Regions from separate parts of the Homo sapiens genome. Here region 2 is linked to region 1. Evidence: fine-mapped expression QTL. A gene starts in region 1. The other region holds a variant in brackets. All regions are shown on one strand. Distances are between the middles of the regions. Region 1 holds the start of AK3 (adenylate kinase 3). Region 2 holds the start of LOC124902112 (a long non-coding RNA gene).

The links. PIP is the estimated chance that this variant, and not a neighbour inherited with it, causes the effect.
Region 2: its variant is fine-mapped to the expression of AK3 in whole blood (INTERVAL, PIP 0.97).

What each region holds. Positions count from the first base shown.
Region 1 is chr9:4,737,621-4,745,950 of GRCh38, reverse strand. It overlaps AK3 (adenylate kinase 3), which reads left to right and starts at 4,749. Exons shown (of 5, transcript NM_016282.4): 1 at 4,749-5,014. The coding sequence starts at 4,864. RefSeq lists silencers at 4,360-4,849, 5,080-5,219.
Region 2 is chr9:4,713,361-4,721,690 of GRCh38, reverse strand. AK3 (adenylate kinase 3) reads left to right here. Exons shown (of 5, transcript NM_016282.4): 3 at 2,384-2,556; 4 at 3,154-3,272. It overlaps LOC124902112 (a long non-coding RNA gene), which reads left to right and starts at 3,279. Exons shown (of 2, transcript XR_007061401.1): 1 at 3,279-3,435; 2 at 4,409-4,617. The variant G/T (reference allele first, on the strand shown) is at 4,326.

The DNA of each region.
Region 1 (8,330 bases):
TCTTCAGACAATACCATTTGCCACAGTGGTTTGTTAGGCCCTGTAAGGTCTGGACCCTCACTACCTCCCTGAGCTTTCTTGTTGAATAACTTTCATTTCTTGCTCTCTCTGTTCCAGGCAGAATGGCTTCTTTGGAAACTCAAGCACGCTCCTCCCTCAGGGGCTTTGCGTTTGTTCTTTTTCTCTCTAGAACATTCTTCCCCCAGATATTTTATTTATTTATTTATTTTCGAGACAGAGTCTCACTCTATCACCCAGGCTGGAGTGCAATGGTGCGATCTCGGCTCACTGCAACCTCCATTTCCCGGGTTCAAGTGATTTTCCTGCCACGGCTTCTTGAGTAGTTGGGATTACAGGTGTGCACCACCACGCCTAGCTAATTTTTGTTTGTTTGTTTGTTTGTTTATTGAGACAGAGTCTCACTCTGTCACCCAGGCTGCAGTGCAATGGCGTGATCTTGGCTCACTGCAACCTCTGCCTCCCGGGTTCAAGTGTTCAAGTGATTCTTATGCCTCAGCTTCCCAAGTAGCTGGGACTACAGGCACATGCCATCCCACCCAGCTATTTTTTGTATTTTTAGTAGAGATGGGGGTTTCACCATGTTGGCCAGGCTGGTCTCGAATTCCTGACCTTAAGTGATCCGCTCATCTTGGCTTCCCAAAGTGCTGGGATTACAGGTGTGAGCCAACACATCCGGCCAGGATATTCATTTATTTATTGAGACAGGGTCTTGCTCTGTTGCCCAGGCTGGAGTACAGTGGTGTGATCACAGCTCACTACAGCCTCAACCTTCCAGGCTCAAGCAATCCTCCCACCTCAGCTTCCCAAATAGTTGGGACCACAGGTGCACACCACCACACTGGCTAATGTTCTTCTTCTTCTTCTTTTTTTTTTTTTTTTTTGTAGAGGAGGGGGTGTCATTATGTTGCCTAGGCTGGTCTCAAACTCCTGGACTCTAGTGATCCTCCCGTCTTGGCCTCCCAAAGTGCTGGGATTACAGGTGTGAGCCACCACACCTGGCCTGGAGTGGATTTTTATAGTAGTGGATAACTGATGTACCTTCCTTCTCTTTGTCTTACTACAATCACTACAATCCTAGTAATTATTTCTCAAACATGAACCCTCCTATTCTTTTGTTCTCACCTAGGTAACACATAGTGTGAAGCAACATACAAACACATATACATGTTTCTTGGAAACAAGCTGTATTAGTTCCCTAGAGCTACAGTAACAAATTACCACAAACTAGGGGGCTTGAAACAATAGAAAGTTATTCTCTCACAGTTCTAGTGACTACAATTCATAGCCAAGGTAAGGGCAGGGTTATTCTCTCCCAAGGATCCTAGGGGAGAATCAGCTTTGTGTCTTTCTCTTGGCTTCTAGTGTCCCTAGCAATCTTTGGTGTTCCTCGGCTTGTAGCTGTATAAGCCCAATATCTGCTTCCATCGTCACATGGCATTCTCCTGCTATGTTTTCAGGTCATATTGGATTAAGAGCTGACCATCTTCCACTATGACCTGATCTTAACTACTTATGTCTGCAAAGACCCTATGTGTAAGTAAGGTCATCTTCTGAGGTACTGGGGATTAGGACTTCAATATATCTCCTGGGGGAATACAATTCAACCCATGACACATGCCTATCATTTCCCCCTCAGTTGTACATTGTAGAGTTGTACATTGAAGACTTAAACATTTCAGTCTTCAAATGTGACAAAGGCCGGGCATGGTGGCTCATGCCTGTAATCCCAGAACTTTGGCAGGCCAAAGCAGGAGGATCATTTGAGGTCAGGAGTTCAAGACCAGCCTGGCCAAAATGGCAAAACCGCTACTAAAAATACAAAAATTAGCGGGGCATGGTGGTGCAGGCCTGTAGTCCCAGTTACTTGGGAGGCTGAAGCAAGAGAATCTCTTGAATCCAGGAGGCAGAGGTTGCAGTGAGCCAATATCTCGCCACTGCACCAGCCTGGGTGACAGAGAGACTCCGTCTCAAAAACAAACAAACAAAAGTGACAAAACAGTAATTCTTAGTATTTAATCAACAAAACCCTACTGAGTGCCTACTATGTGCAAAGCACTCATCTGGGCTTTATTTGCTTCAAACTAATCTGTATAAACACTTGGTCATTAAATTAGAATTTGAATGAATTTGACCTCAGTGTTTTTCAGTTGGAACAAGGTAGGCAGTGAGGAACAGATCCATACAAAGGCCTGTGAATGGCGAAAAGACTATGCCAGGCACAGTTGCCAGGAGATTTCACAGACTGGCAGTTACTCATTTGTAATCAACAACCTTTTGCAAAGCCAAAGTTGATTGGTGTTTTGCGGGCCTGTTAATATGACCACGACACTCAGCTTTTCATCCCCGCAATGACAGGATGATTCCTCAGCTATTTTTGTTTGTTTGAACATTTTTTTTTTCTAAACCAAATTTCCCCAGGATTTTCTTTCTGGTTTCTTTTGGAGCTGAAACCTCCTATGTTCCCAGCTTTGGAGATTAGAAGTACTTTCTCCACACCTTCAGATTTTCTAGTATTGCATAAGTTGTACTTGTCCAGACTTGCTCATTCTTTAGTTAGTTCTGTTCAAGTTTTCTCATCCTTTCATTTATGTTGTTTACTTCATCCCTTCCTCTGCTTTCCATGGGTTATTTTGATGTCCTTTTCCCAATTACATGAATTCAATGTTTAATTCATTTATTTTCATTCTTTTCATTCTTTCTTGCTTAGTAATGAGTATGTATGAGCCCTGCTGGGCACAGTGGGGTGGCTCAAGCCTGTAATCCCAGCACTTGGAGAGGTCAAGGCGGGCAGATCATTTGAGGTCAGGAGTTTGAGATCAGCCTGGCCAACATGGTGAAATCCCATCTCTACGAAAAATATAAAAATCAGCTGGGCGTGGTGGCGGGTGCCTGTAATTCCAGCTACTCGGGAAGCTGAGGTATAAGAATCACCTGAACCTGGGAAGTAGAGGTTGCAGTGAGCTGAGATCGCATCACAGCACTCCAGCCTGGGCAACAAAACAAGACCCCGTCTCAAAGAAACAAAACGAGGCCGGGCGCGGTGGCTCACATCTGTAATCCCAGCACTTTGGAAGGCCAAGGCGGGTGGATCACCTGACGTCGGGAGTTTCAGACCAGTCTAAGCAACATGAAGGAACCCTGTCTCTGCTAAAAATATAAAATTAGCCGGGTGCGGTAGCGTGTGCCTGTAATCCCAGCTACTCGGGAGGCTGAGGCAGGAGAATCACTTGAACCCGGGAGGCAGAGGTTGCCGTGAGCCGATTGCACTCCAGCCTGGGCAACAAGAGCAAAACTCTGTCTCAAAGAAAAAAAAATGTACAAGGTATGTATTTTCTTTCTTTCTTTTCCACACCAGAAAGTATAAAGGCTAATGCCTTTTCTAAGTACCAGGCTGTCTACCTATTGAAATCCCCCATCCATTCACTCAGCTACGATTCACTGACTGTCTCACCCTGAAGTCATTTCTATCTTCTTTGAAATCAGTTCTGGACCTCTGAGGAGAATGGTAACTGTGTTTTATTTTCAGAGAGCCTTCTTTCTGCCTTAGCATAGTGTCCGGGACAAAGCAATGATGATAAATGGACAACCATTATTGAACATTGACCCCGTAGCTGGCATTGCACTAAGTACTACATTATTTTAACTCCTCCATTCTACTCCTCTATGCCCATTTTACAGGCAAAATGATACTCACTCGAACGTTTTTGTCCTCTGTTTCCATTCTTGAAACATGCCAAACCTCCAGTTTTAGGGCCTTTTCCTAAAACTGGACATAGGAAGGGCCCATGTCTCTCTCTTCCATATTCTAATTAAGCACTCAGCACACATGCCATCTCTTCAAAGCTTTTCCGACCGCCTATCTACAACAGCCTGCCTCCACAGTTTCACACACTCTTTTACGTTATTTATAAAAGAGTCTCACTCAATGGAAGCTGGATTTCCTCTCCTGTAAAATGAGGTAGGCCCTCTCGGCTCAAGGTCACTCCCTGTGATTCTACACAGAGAGGGAGTGGGAAGAGAGGGCGCTCGGCAGCAGAGGAGGAGGAGGAAGGAGGGAAGGGCGAAGGCGGGAGTGGGTGCAGAAGCGGGGGGTCTGGCGGTCCAGGGGGGTAGAAGGGAGGGGCGGATTCGAGTGGGCGCCAGGTGGAGGTGGGGCCAGGGTTGTCAAGGGAGCACGAAAGGGGTCGCGGTGTGTCCGGCAAGGACTGGGTAGGGCAGCGCCTGCTATGGACTAGGGGCGAGGGCTACGAAAGGGTTGTTGGAGGGGTGGATGCGGGTGGATCCCGAAACCAAGCGGCTCCGAGGGGCGACTAGAGGTGGGGAGGGGGCGCGCAGGAGTTGCCAAGGTCGGACAGAGGGGAGCGCGGTCTATCCGGCTGGGAATGGGCCGGACAGGGCGCGGGGTTCCGGGGTCGCGGAGAGGCGCGGAGGTAGATCTGAGCCGAGTGGAGGGCGCGTGGGGGTGGGTGCAGAGGGGCGCCGAAGGGATCCGGGCCCAGCGGCCGGTGGAGAGGGGCCGCGGAGAGGCGCAGGTGGGAGCTGGGCGGCCGAGCGAGCGCAGAGGGGGCGCGGCTTGCGCGGCTTGCGCGGCTGGGCGGGAACAGGCGCTCGGTCGGGGGCGGGGGGTGCGCCGGGGTAGCCGAGAGGCGGACGCAACAGCGGGGTCCCGCGCTGTCTGGGCGGCCCCAGGGGCTGTCGGCTCACTTCCGGGAACGCCGGGGAACCGCAGTAGCCGCCTGCTAGTGGCGCTGCTAGCCGGCCGGCGCAGGCTGCCGAGCGGGTGAGCGCGCAGGCCAGGCCAAAGCCCTGGTACCCGCGCGGTGCGGGCCTCAGTCTGCGGCCATGGGGGCGTCCGCGCGGCTGCTGCGAGCGGTGATCATGGGGGCCCCGGGCTCGGGCAAGGGCACCGTGTCGTCGCGCATCACTACACACTTCGAGCTGAAGCACCTCTCCAGCGGGGACCTGCTCCGGGACAACATGCTGCGGGGCACAGGTGGGAGCTCTGGGCCCAGGGCCGGCCGTGCGCTGTCACCCGGGTCGGACTTCGCGGGCGAGGGGCCGAAGCTGGGCACGCGGGTCCCTGGCTGCGGGCGCGGCATTTCCCTCCCGCCGCCCGGGACAGAGACCTCGGGCTGCTGAGCGACTGCGCCCCAAAACCTCCGGCCTCCGTGGGCCGCTTCGGGCGGGTTATGGGGTGGCGGTGGGGGAAGGGACTGGAAAGTTAGGTCGAGCTCGAAGTTCAGAGATGAAAGGAAACCACCGGGCTTTGTTTCAGAGGCCCAAGTCCTCCCAGTGGCAGCCACTCTTGGGGGTCCATCGAGCTGAGCCGCAGCTTGTTCAACGTGCTGGTGCCTTTGGAAGACTGTCATTAGCCCTGCTAGAGTCTGCTCGTTCTGTTTTGTTTTCTTTGTTTCTTTCTTTTCTCTTTCTTTTTTGGTGTGGTTAAGCTCTATGAGATCTTGTAGTTCTGACCTTTCCCCCATATTCCCAAGGCCAAGTATTATTTACCCTTGTTGCAGTCATAAAATTATCTCATTTTGATATCCTTAGATTTCGTAGACACGAAGGCTATTCTTGTGCATGGTTCTATAAAATATTTTGTTTCTCATGCCAAATAAATTCTTACAGCTCGGCACGAAAGGCAGTTAACAATCTACACTATACAATGGGTGAATTTGTGGTATGTAAATTCTCTCTTAAGAGGGTTGTTTTTGAAAAGCCAATCGCAGGAGTTTTTTTCTCAAAAAATGTTGACCTTACTTTTCAAAATAGAACCCGTTTTGAAACTCATTTTGAAACCCATTTACATAGAAATAATGCTTCCACAAGGCCTTTTTCTTTTGTTTTCCTTCTTTTTTTTTTTTTTTTTGTAAGGATAGCAAACAGGATAGACGTGCATAGCATAAAAAACAACGCCCTCTTTCGTTCCCTACCTCAGTCCCATTCTTCGGAGGGGAACAGAGTTTTCCTTCTAGAAAGGTTTACTTTTTAAGCGCAGATACGTGTACCTTTTTTCTTTTTTTCTTTTTGGTTTGTTTGTTTTTTGAGACGGAGTCTTGCTCTGTCTGCCTCCTGGGTTCAAGCAATTCTCCTGTCTCAGCCTCCCTAGTAGCTGGGACTACAGGCGCATGCCACCACGCCGGGCTAATTTTTTGTATTTTTAGTAGCGATGGGGTTTCACTGTGTTAGCCAGGCTGGTCCCCATCTCCTGACCTCGTGATCCACCCGGCTCGGCCTTCCAAAGTGCTCGGATTACAGGCGTGAGCCACCGCGCCCGGCCAACGTGTATCTTTTCTTGTATGTAATATGTGAGCATACTATGTGTATATACTCTGCACTAGTGTGGTTTCACTTTGTGTCTGGGATATATTTCACATGAAAACGGACAAATCCATTTCATTCTGTTTTTGTAGTATGTATTTTCTGAATCTAGTATGATTTATTTAACCAGTTCACACTTGTAATCCCAGCACTTTGTGAGGTCAAGGCGGGCGGATCACTTGACCTTAGCAGTTCTAGACCAGCCTGGGCTACTTGGTGAAACTGCGTCTCTATAAAAAATTCAAAAACAATTAGCGAGGCGCAGTGGCAGGCACCTGTGATCCTAGCTACTCGGGAGGCTGAGGAGAGAGAATCGCTTGAACCTGGGAGGCGGAGGTTGCTGTGAGTCGAGATTGCAACGCTGCACTCCAGCCTGAGCAAGACCCCATCTCGAAAAAAAAGAAAGAAAGAACAGAGATTGTTTGACTTGCTTGCTAAATGTTGTTAATGCGACATACTGAAGTAGTTAGGTAACATTAAACAGTCCCAGATACTGCTACTGGTTGGGGTCAGGTTAACCAAAGTCTAGGAGAGTAGGCCTGGCGCAATGGCTCATGCTTGTAATCCCAGCACTTTGGGGGCTGAGTCGGGCAGGTCACTTGAGGTCAGGAATTCAAGACCAGCCTAGGCAACATGACGAAACCCCCGTCTCTACCAAAAATACAAAAAATTAGCTGGGCATGGTGGCTCGCGCCTGTGGTCCCAGCTTCTCTGGAGGCTGAGGTGGGAGTATCACTTGAGCCCGGGATGCAGAGGTTGTCATGAGCCGAGATTGTGCTACTACACTCCAAGCTGGGTGACAGACAGAGTGATACCCTGTCTCAAAAAAAAAAAAAAAAAAAAAAAAGTAAAGCATATTTATTATAAAAGAAGGAAACTATATCTATTTCATGCAAATGTAAAAAAGGTAAATTAAGATCCCTCATAATTCTGCCTTGCCACACAGAGATGATTATAATTAACTCTTGGGTGCATTTTCTTTTATTCTTTTTTTTTCTTTTTCTTTTTTATTTCTGTTGCATTTGTATTTGCAAAATGGTTGTATTCTAAAATTGTCATATTCTAAATGATAGGTTACTTTTTTATTCTCATTTATAGTGAGCATGTTCACACATCATTAAGCAGTCTTAAAAATGATGTTTAAGCTGGGCGGGGTGTCTCACGCCTGTAATCCTAGCACTTTGGGAGGCTGAGGTGGGTGAATCACCAGAGGTCAGGAGTTCAAGACCAGCCTGGCCAACATGGCAAAACCCTGTCTCTACTAAAAATACAAAAATTAGCCAGGCATGGTGGTGGGCGCTTGTAATCCTAGCTACTTGGGAGGCTGAGGCAGGAGAATCACTTGAAACTGGGAGGCGGAGGTTGCAGCGAGCCGAGATGGCGCCATTGCATTCCAGCCTAGGTGAAAAGAGCGGAACTCTGTCTCAAAAAAAAAGATGTTTAATTTTATCAAAGTTGTATAGTTATTAAACATTTTTATTGGACGCGTATGTTGTTAACTATTGTTTGTTGTAATAAATACTGTTATGACTATCCCTGCACATAAACATTTGGCAAATCTTTGCTTATTTCCTTCAAATAAATTCCTAGTATGGAATTTCTACAAATATGGTACTATCAAATAATACAACAGAAGGATTGTGCCAATTTAGTTTCCAGTCATTGTTTCATGAGGGTGCTATATTTTATAACCCATGGCTGTATTTTATAGCTAAGGTTTAAAATCATCACAGGAGATATGATAAGGACACTGGAAACTTTAGGCAACTCATTGACAGTAGCAAAGCTGGAATAACTGTAGGTCATCACTGAAACTTGGAGTCAGGGAACTTGAATCTGACCTTAAGACATTTAGTCCAGTCCTCTCTTTTATTGTATTTTATTTTTTTGAGACAGAGTCCCCACTCTGTCGCCCAGGCTGGAGTGCAGTGGCACGATCTCGGCTTACTGCGACCTCCGACTCCTGGGTTCAAGCGATTCTCCTGCTT
Region 2 (8,330 bases), 24 kb after region 1:
GGTCAGGAGTTCAAGACCAGCCTGGCCAACATGGTGAAACTCCATCTCTACTAAAAATACAAAAATTAGCCGGGCGTGATGGCGCACACCTGTAACCCTAGCTACTCGGGAGGCTGAGACAGGGGAATTGCTTGAACTGGGAGGCAGAGGCTGCGGTGAACCGAGATTGCCCCACTGCACTCCAGCCTGGGTGACAGAGTGAGATTCTGTCTCAGAAAAAAAAAAGAAGTTGATGTGAACAGAGAGTAATGTAGTTGAGGAGTAGGCACTTTTTTTTTTTTTTTAATGGAGACAGTGTCTGGCTCTGTTGCCCAGGCTGGAGTGTGATGGTGCGATCTCCTCTCACTGCAACCTCTTCCTCCTCAGTTCAAGTGATTCTCCTGCCTCAGCCTCCTGAGTAGCTGGGATTACAGGTGCCCACCAGCACACGTGGCTAATTTTTGTATTTTTAGTAGAGATAGGGTTTCACTATGTTGGCCAGACTGGTCTCAAACTCCTGGCCTCAAGTGATCTGCCCACCTCAGCCTCCAAAAGTGCTGGGATTGCAAGTATGAGCCATCGCACCTGGCATCTTCTCCTTTTTAAAACAAAATATGTTGCATGGTTCAGAATTCAAAATTTTGTTTTAAAAAGTTTAATGAAAAGTCTTGCTTCTTTATGAGGTGTAAGGGGCTGAAAAACATTCCCATTTGTGGGAGGTCTTGAGGAATGAGTAGGATTACATGGGTGGAGAGACAGGTTATCTTTGGCAGCAGGAACAAGGTAAACCAAGGTAGGCTGGTGATGCTGCCCAGGAAAGGGCCATTATTTCTCCCGAATCCAGGTTTCCTGGGTATAGTTTTAGTCGTTATCATTGTCATTTTAGCACATTGTAAGGTCTAGATCACTGGCAAATTTTTCCACATTTCATTGTTAACAAGAAAATGTAATTTTTCAGATGATATTTTTGCTCTAACAAATTATGCATGTGCGGTTTTAACCTTTGTCACTTTTTTTTTTTTGGAGACAGTGTCTTGCTCTGTCACCAGGCTGCAGTGCAATGGAGTCATCATGGCTTATTGCAGCCTTGACCTCCTGAGCTCAGGCAATCCTCCTGCCTCAGCCTCCTGAGTAGCTGGGACCATAGGCATGCACCACCACGCCCTGCTAATTTTGTTGTCGTTGTTATTTATAGAGAAGGGGTCTTGCTATGTTGCCCAGGCTGGTCTCAAACTCCTGGGCTCAAGCAGTCCTCCCGCCTCAGCCTCTCAAAGTGCTGAGATTACAGGTGTGAGCCACCATGTGTGGCCTAACTTTTGTCATTTTTGAAAATATATTATTTCTACTAATTTTAATTTTTTTCTGGTATTCTGGACAAAATGTCCTTAGTAACAACATTGCAAAGTCAGAAGTTTGTGATCAAAGTATTATTTTAAATTCCCTAATATACTTGGGTGTATTTCTGAATTCACTCATTAGGTACATTTGCCTGTCTCTCTGTTTTTGAACCACATTGTTTAGCTATATAACACATCTCTTTGTCTGTTAGGGTTTTATCCTTTTGCATTAATAGTTTTCCTTTAGCTGGACTTTAGTTTCATTTTGTCATATTTCAGAAATAGCCTCTGGAGTGTTTGTTTGTTTGTTTTTGAGGAGTCTTGCTCTGTCACCCAGGCTGGAGTGCACTGGTGTAGAATTTTGGTTCACTACAACCTCCCCTCCCGGGTTCAAGCGATTCTCCCACCTCGCCTCCCAACTAGCTGGGATTACAGGGACCTGCCATCATGCCAGGCTAATTTTTGTATTTTTGTAGAGATGGGATTTCACCATGTTGGCTAGGCTGGTCTTGAACTCCTGAGCTCAGGTGATCCGCCCTCCTCAGCCTCCCAAAATGCTGGGATTACAGGTGTGAGCCACTGCGCCCGGCCAGTCCCTGGATTTGGGTGAAGATCATGAGTTCAGTTTGAGTTTAAAGGCGGGAAAAGTCCTGTGTCCCAGTTAGAGGTAGCAGGCAGGAGGAATTCTTTGTTATTTGGGTGAGGGTCAGCCTTTTGTTCTACTCAGGCCTTAAAATTGATTAGATAAGGCCCACCCATATTAAGAAGGGCAATGTACTTTATCAGTCTGCCTATTTACATGATAATTTCATAACAAAAGCAGCCTGACAGATATACCCAGCATAATATTTGCCAAATATCTGGGCACTCATGCCCCAGTCAAGTTGACAGGTAACCATCACAGTTGCACCGCAGCTGTGATCGGCCTGCCTGGTGAGCCTCATTCCTTTTGTTCAGATTGTCCAACATTAATTCTTTCTTTTTCTTTCTTCTTTCTCCACCCGCCCCACCCCCACCCCATACTTCCTTTCTTTTTTCTTCTTCTTTTTCTTTTTTACTTTATAAAGGTTTTCCAAGGACACTTCCACAGGCAGAAGCCCTAGATAGAGCTTATCAGATCGACACAGTGATTAACCTGAATGTGCCCTTTGAGGTCATTAAACAACGCCTTACTGCTCGCTGGATTCATCCCGCCAGTGGCCGAGTCTATAACATTGAATTCAACCCTCCCAAAACTGTGGTGAGTAGTTGTTGTGGAACTGTCACATAGCAGACTGTCCCTGAGTCCTCTTGCCCTAACAGACATAAGTTGAGTGAACTTGGAAATCCTCTGACCAAAACTCCTGAGGGTATATTCTCAGGTTACTTGGTAGAGTTGACTGATCAAGTCCACTGAGCTTGGTGCGAAAGGTTGCCCCAGGAGCAGCAGGGGTTTGTTACTCATTCAAAAACATTTGTTGATTTCCTGCTCTGCCAAGGAGTGTGTTAGGAGTTGCGCTGATAGAGATTCATAACACCTTGGTTTATTTAGGACTTGCAGTTGAAATTCCAAGTTTATAGCTGAATCTTTTTGAATATATATGAACTTACTTAGAGGCTGCTTAGAAAACCTTTTACTCTAAGGCTAAAGTGACTGATAACTGTAGAAATGAAACTGGCGTACCCTGTTTCTGTTGCGATGATCTCTTTTGAGGTTGGATTCCATTTTTTTAAAAGTTAGCACATTTTTGTGCTTGGCACTTGCACAGAGATGTCTGTTTAAAAATAATTGAACTGCTTATGAAAATATCTTTCAGAAATATGATATCTGATACTAGTCTCTTCTAATCCTGTTTAGGGCATTGATGACCTGACTGGGGAGCCTCTCATTCAGCGTGAGGATGATAAACCAGAGACGGTTATCAAGAGACTAAAGGCTTATGAAGACCAAACAAAGCCAGTCCTGGAATATTACCAGTGAGTTTTTGCTTTTCAGAACTTCTCTTGCGTAGTGGTGCACTAAGTCTAGTTTTGATTTTCCTTCCTCTACAGCTGAAATGCTAAAATGCCAAAAGACCCAGTTCACATGGGCTTAAGTAATAAAGGAAATACATTAGCTTGTGTAACAGAAGTCCAGAAGGTAGGTTGGGCTTCAGTCACACCTGGGTTTGATCAGTGTAGCCGTTCTCTTGGTTTTGCCTTCCTGTGTGTGTATTGGCTTTGTCCTTAGGCTTCCTGCATGGTAGCAGACATTTGTAGGAACAGCCAGGGCTTCCTCTTCTATGAAGGGCTGAGGGGTAACCTTTCCTCCAGTGAATAGAAGCCCAGAGCACCACTCGGATGGAGCCAACTTGAACTACAGTCAGGGAATGCCTGGCACTAACTGTTACAGGCTTGGGTTACTGCCTACTGCAGAACCAGTCATTGGGGTGGGAAGGATTCCACTGATTACACTGACTAGTCCACTTCTAGAGTTGGCAGTGCGACAGTCTCATCCATACTCTGCTATGTGCAGATGTTCCGCAATTTACAATGAAATTACATCCTAATAAATCCATTGTAATTTGAAAATACCAAGCACCATAACTTAGCCTGCCTTAAACATGCTCAGAACACTTAGATTAGCCTACAGTTGGGCGAAATCATCTAACACAAAGCCTGTTTTGTAATAAAGTGTTGAATATCTCACATAATTTACTGAATATTGTACTGAAATTGAAAAGCAGGATGGTTGTACAGGTGCTCGAGGTACAATTTCTATTGAATGCATGTTGCTTTCGCACCATCATAAAGCTGAAAAATCCTGCATTGAATAATTGTAAGCTGGGGATTGTCGGTAGGGGAGGCAGGGCTGGAATGAATGCTGGGGAGGCAAACTTAATATTGCCCACCACATTTGCCAATACAGGATGCTATGGTGTGGAAGAATCTCAGATGGCAGCTAATCCCTCAGACTATGTAATTGGCTAGCAGTCTTTAAAAGCTTACATTTTAACATTGTTTTGTCTGCTCTTGTTTTGTCTGCAACAC[G/T]TATAGGAACCGTACTGAATGAGTATTTGACTTAGGCTAAGAAATACTCCAGTTTTCTTACTGAGCCTTCCTGCTTCTTACAGAGGATTGACTGCCTCCCCTTTCATTTATGTACTTATTGAATACTGATCCTGATCAGGGCAGAACAGTATCTTGGGCAGAACACAGACTCTGGAGCCAGAATACCTAAGTTCAAGTCCCAGCTCACCATCTTCACCTTCACCTTCTGCTTAACCTCTGCCTGTTTTTTCCTCTGTAAATTGGGGAAGAGAATAAAGGTTTGAAAGATTAATATGGGTAACTCTTAGAACTGGGCCTGACGCATAGAAAGCACTATAGAAATGTTAGCTATTGTTATTGTTGTTGTAATAGCGTATGTATGCAGTAGAAATCTGAAGCAATAGTTTCCAAACTGTTATTTATTTATTTATTTTAGAGACAGGGTCTCACTCTGTCACCCAGGTTGGAGTGCAGTGGTTCTTTCATAGTTCACTACAGCCTTGAATTCCTGGGCTCAAGCAATTCTCCTGTCTCAGCCTCCCAAGTAGCCAGGACTATAGGCCCGTGCCACCAGACCTGGCCAATTAAAAAAATTTTTTTTAGAGCTGGGGCTCTTGCCATGTTGCACGGGCTACTCAAACTCCTGGCTTCAGGCAACCCTCCTGCCTCGGCCTCCCAAAACATTGGGATTACAGGTACGAGCCACCATGCCTGGCCTTTCAAACCATCTTAATTTTTTCTGGAGCATAAAATTACAAGGTTGGCAAACCATTTTTTGTAGTAGCTGTTACTATAATTTTGTCATTTGTTTAATGAGGCTGGTTCTGAAAATTACCGTCTCTTTTGCCCTAGGCAAGCTATTTAACCTCCATGCCACAAATCCCTTATTTGTAAAATCAGGCAATATTAAATAGCATCTGCTTTATAGGGTTGTTAAAAGAATTAAGTGAGAGATCCTGGAAAGTCCTACAACAGCCCTGGTGTCTATTAAATCATTCATTGTCAGCAATTATTGTTCACTCTCTTGACACTGTGCTAGGCCCTTGGTCCACATGGACAATTAGATCCAGTCCCTGTCAGGCTCCAAGAAGCTATGTTTGTGGGTGAGGTGGGGAGCTGGGTAAACAGTATTTATCATACAATATGATATGTGCTTATATTAACTAAGAACCTAATTCACACCAGGTTAAGCAAAAGGGGAATTTATTGGTAATGTAACTGAAAAGTCAAAGATAGATGGATGGGTCCAGGTGTTCAAAAACACCTATCATCAGGCGTCAGTCACTCCGCTCCATTGTCCTGTGCTGGCTTCAGTCTCAGGTGTGCCCTCCCTGTGTAGCAGCCCCTCAGCTTTCCAGTTTACCTCCTACCAGCCAGAAACCCCAGCAGCAAAGAGCCTCTTTTGCCAGCAAAAGTCTTGGGGTCGGCACCGATTAGCTCTGATCATGTCCATCCTTGAAGATGGGGAGTGGGGACAGTCTCTCCTGAACCTCGTCGACTGAGTTTGGTGGAGAGGTTATTTCCCAAAGGTAACCAGAGGAAGGGAGAATGCATTGTTGCTGGGCAGATAACACCACCACTGCAAGGCTATGAATGATAATCCCCCAAAGCAGTGAAGTACCAGGGGTTGTTGGGATTCGTTCTGTCAAAATATCAAAATATGGGAAGGGGCCTGGGACAGTGGCTCATGCCTGTAATCCCAGCACTTTGGGAGGCTAAGGCAGGAGGATCGAAAAGGCAGGAATTCAAGATCAGCCTGGGCAACATGGTGAAACTCTGTCTCTACAAAACATAAAAAAAAATATTAGCCAGGCATGGTGGCACATGCCTATAGTCCCAGCTACTGGGGAGTCTGAGGTAAGAAGATTGCTTGGACCCAGTGGGTCAAGACTGCAGTGATCTATGATTGCTCCACTGCAGTCTAGAGCGCGGGTGTCAGAGTGAGACCCTGTCTTAAAAAAAAAAAAAAAAAAAGTAGTAAGGGAAGTTAAGGAAAGCTGCGAAGATGAAGTGAAAGACACGGGCCCCTGTCTTAGGAGATATTTTAGAAGTCTTTCTAGGCTCCTTCTGGCTTTTGCTGCCTTTTGCTGTTAATTCAAGCTTTTCTTTTCTTTTTCTTTCCTTCTTTCTTTTTTTTTTTTTTTTTTTTGAGACGGAGTCTCACTCTCTCTCAGGTTGGAGTGCAGTGGTGCCATCCCAGCTCACTGCAGCCTCCTCATCCCAGGTTCAAGCGATTCTTATGCCTCAGCCTCCCCAGTAGCTAGGACTACAGGCACGTGCCACCATGTCCTGCTAATTTTTGTATTTTTAGTAGAGACGGGGTTTCGCCATGTTGGCCAGGCTGGTCTTGAACTCCTGACCTCAAGTGATCCACCCTCCTTGGCCTCCCAAAGTGCTGGGATTACAGACTTGAGCCACCACACCCGGCCGAATTCAGTCTTTTCATTCTCAGCTCCCACACGTAGAACTCAGCGAGACTTGACTAAAAACTGAAAGTTTATTTGCAAGAATGTTAGTAATAGTCAGCATTGTTATTTAGAAATGCTGACAGTTGTATTGTTGGTTGTTTTAAAAAAAACCTTTTAGCTGTGGGACATTATAGAGTAACTGGTCTATGTTTACAAACAACATGATGCCCTTACTCTTTGGAGGACCAATTGTTGAAGCTGGTTCCATTTTATTACACAGAAATTAAAATGACAAATGTTCACCCACGATTTAGGATCGAATAGGTGCCTGCAATTGTGCCCTCAGTAATTAACCCACTTGTGACACTGGCTTGATTTTTAAATCGGCTCTTCAAGAGGCTTACAACAGTTAAGAAGCTTGTTCCCTTGAAAGCAGTACCAGGTGCCAGTGAATTTAGAAGCAGGAGGGTTTCTAATATCCCAAGAATGCTGTATTTGCATAATTTCCTTCCTTAGCAGATGTTTCTTACCGAGAAAACAGTGGGTGTTATTTAAGTTAACTGTGGCAAATTTTATGAGGTATCAAGGGAAGAATGCTTTTGTCCTTAGTGAAAGCCCTGAAAACCTCGGAAGAAGGGCCACACAGGTATAAGGAATCCTCTTTTCACAAAGTCATAAACCAGAGTTCTTAGGTTGTCCTTATGCAGTCTTTACACCAGTGTGTATGTGTGGAGGCGAATGTGTGGAGGTGTATATGTGGAGGTGTGTGTATGTGGAGGCGTATGTGTGGAGGTGTGTGTATGTGGAGGTGTGTATATGTGTAGGTGTGTATATGTGGAGGTGTGTATATGTGTAGGTGTGTATATGTGTAGGTGTGTATATGTGTAGGTGTGTATATGTGTAGGTGTATATGTGTAGATGTATATGTGTAGCTGTATATGTGTAGGTGTATATGTGTAGGCGTATATGTGTAGGTGTGTAAATGTGGAGGTGTGTATATGTGTAGGCGTGTATATGTGGAGGTGTGTATATGTGGAGGTGTATATGTGTAGGCGTAGGTGTACGCATGGGCTAGAGGACGGGTATTAGCAAGAGGAAGGCCAGAATCTTTGGAGGGAATCTGTGTGGCTTGAAAAGCACCCCCAGGATTCTGATCTCACTCTTCACCATGTTATCCACAGGAAACTGGAGTAAATAAAATAGACTTTGGCTGCTGGTCTAGTGACAAGCTAGACAAATCTGCCTGGGAAGAAATGAAGACAGTCAATAGGAAACCCAATAAAACCAACACTTTTTATTCCCCTTTCTGTTAATATTCAGAAGAGTGGAATAGAGGAGAACATAAATGTTGGCCTGGGCAAAAAGGAAAGATACTCAAGTATTAGAAAGTAGCTTTTGCAAAAGAGTAAGTAGAAAAAAAAGGCTGATGGGTGTTCTGGTATCTTATAGGTCCTGTTTGGAAATGTACTACCAACTTGGTGATTTGGGCTAAGTTACATTACAAAGGGATGATTTTATTAGTAAAATAAGAAAATTTGAGCTTTGGAAAGGATTAAACAAACTATAATATGTAAAGCATGTAGCACAGCCTTTGACA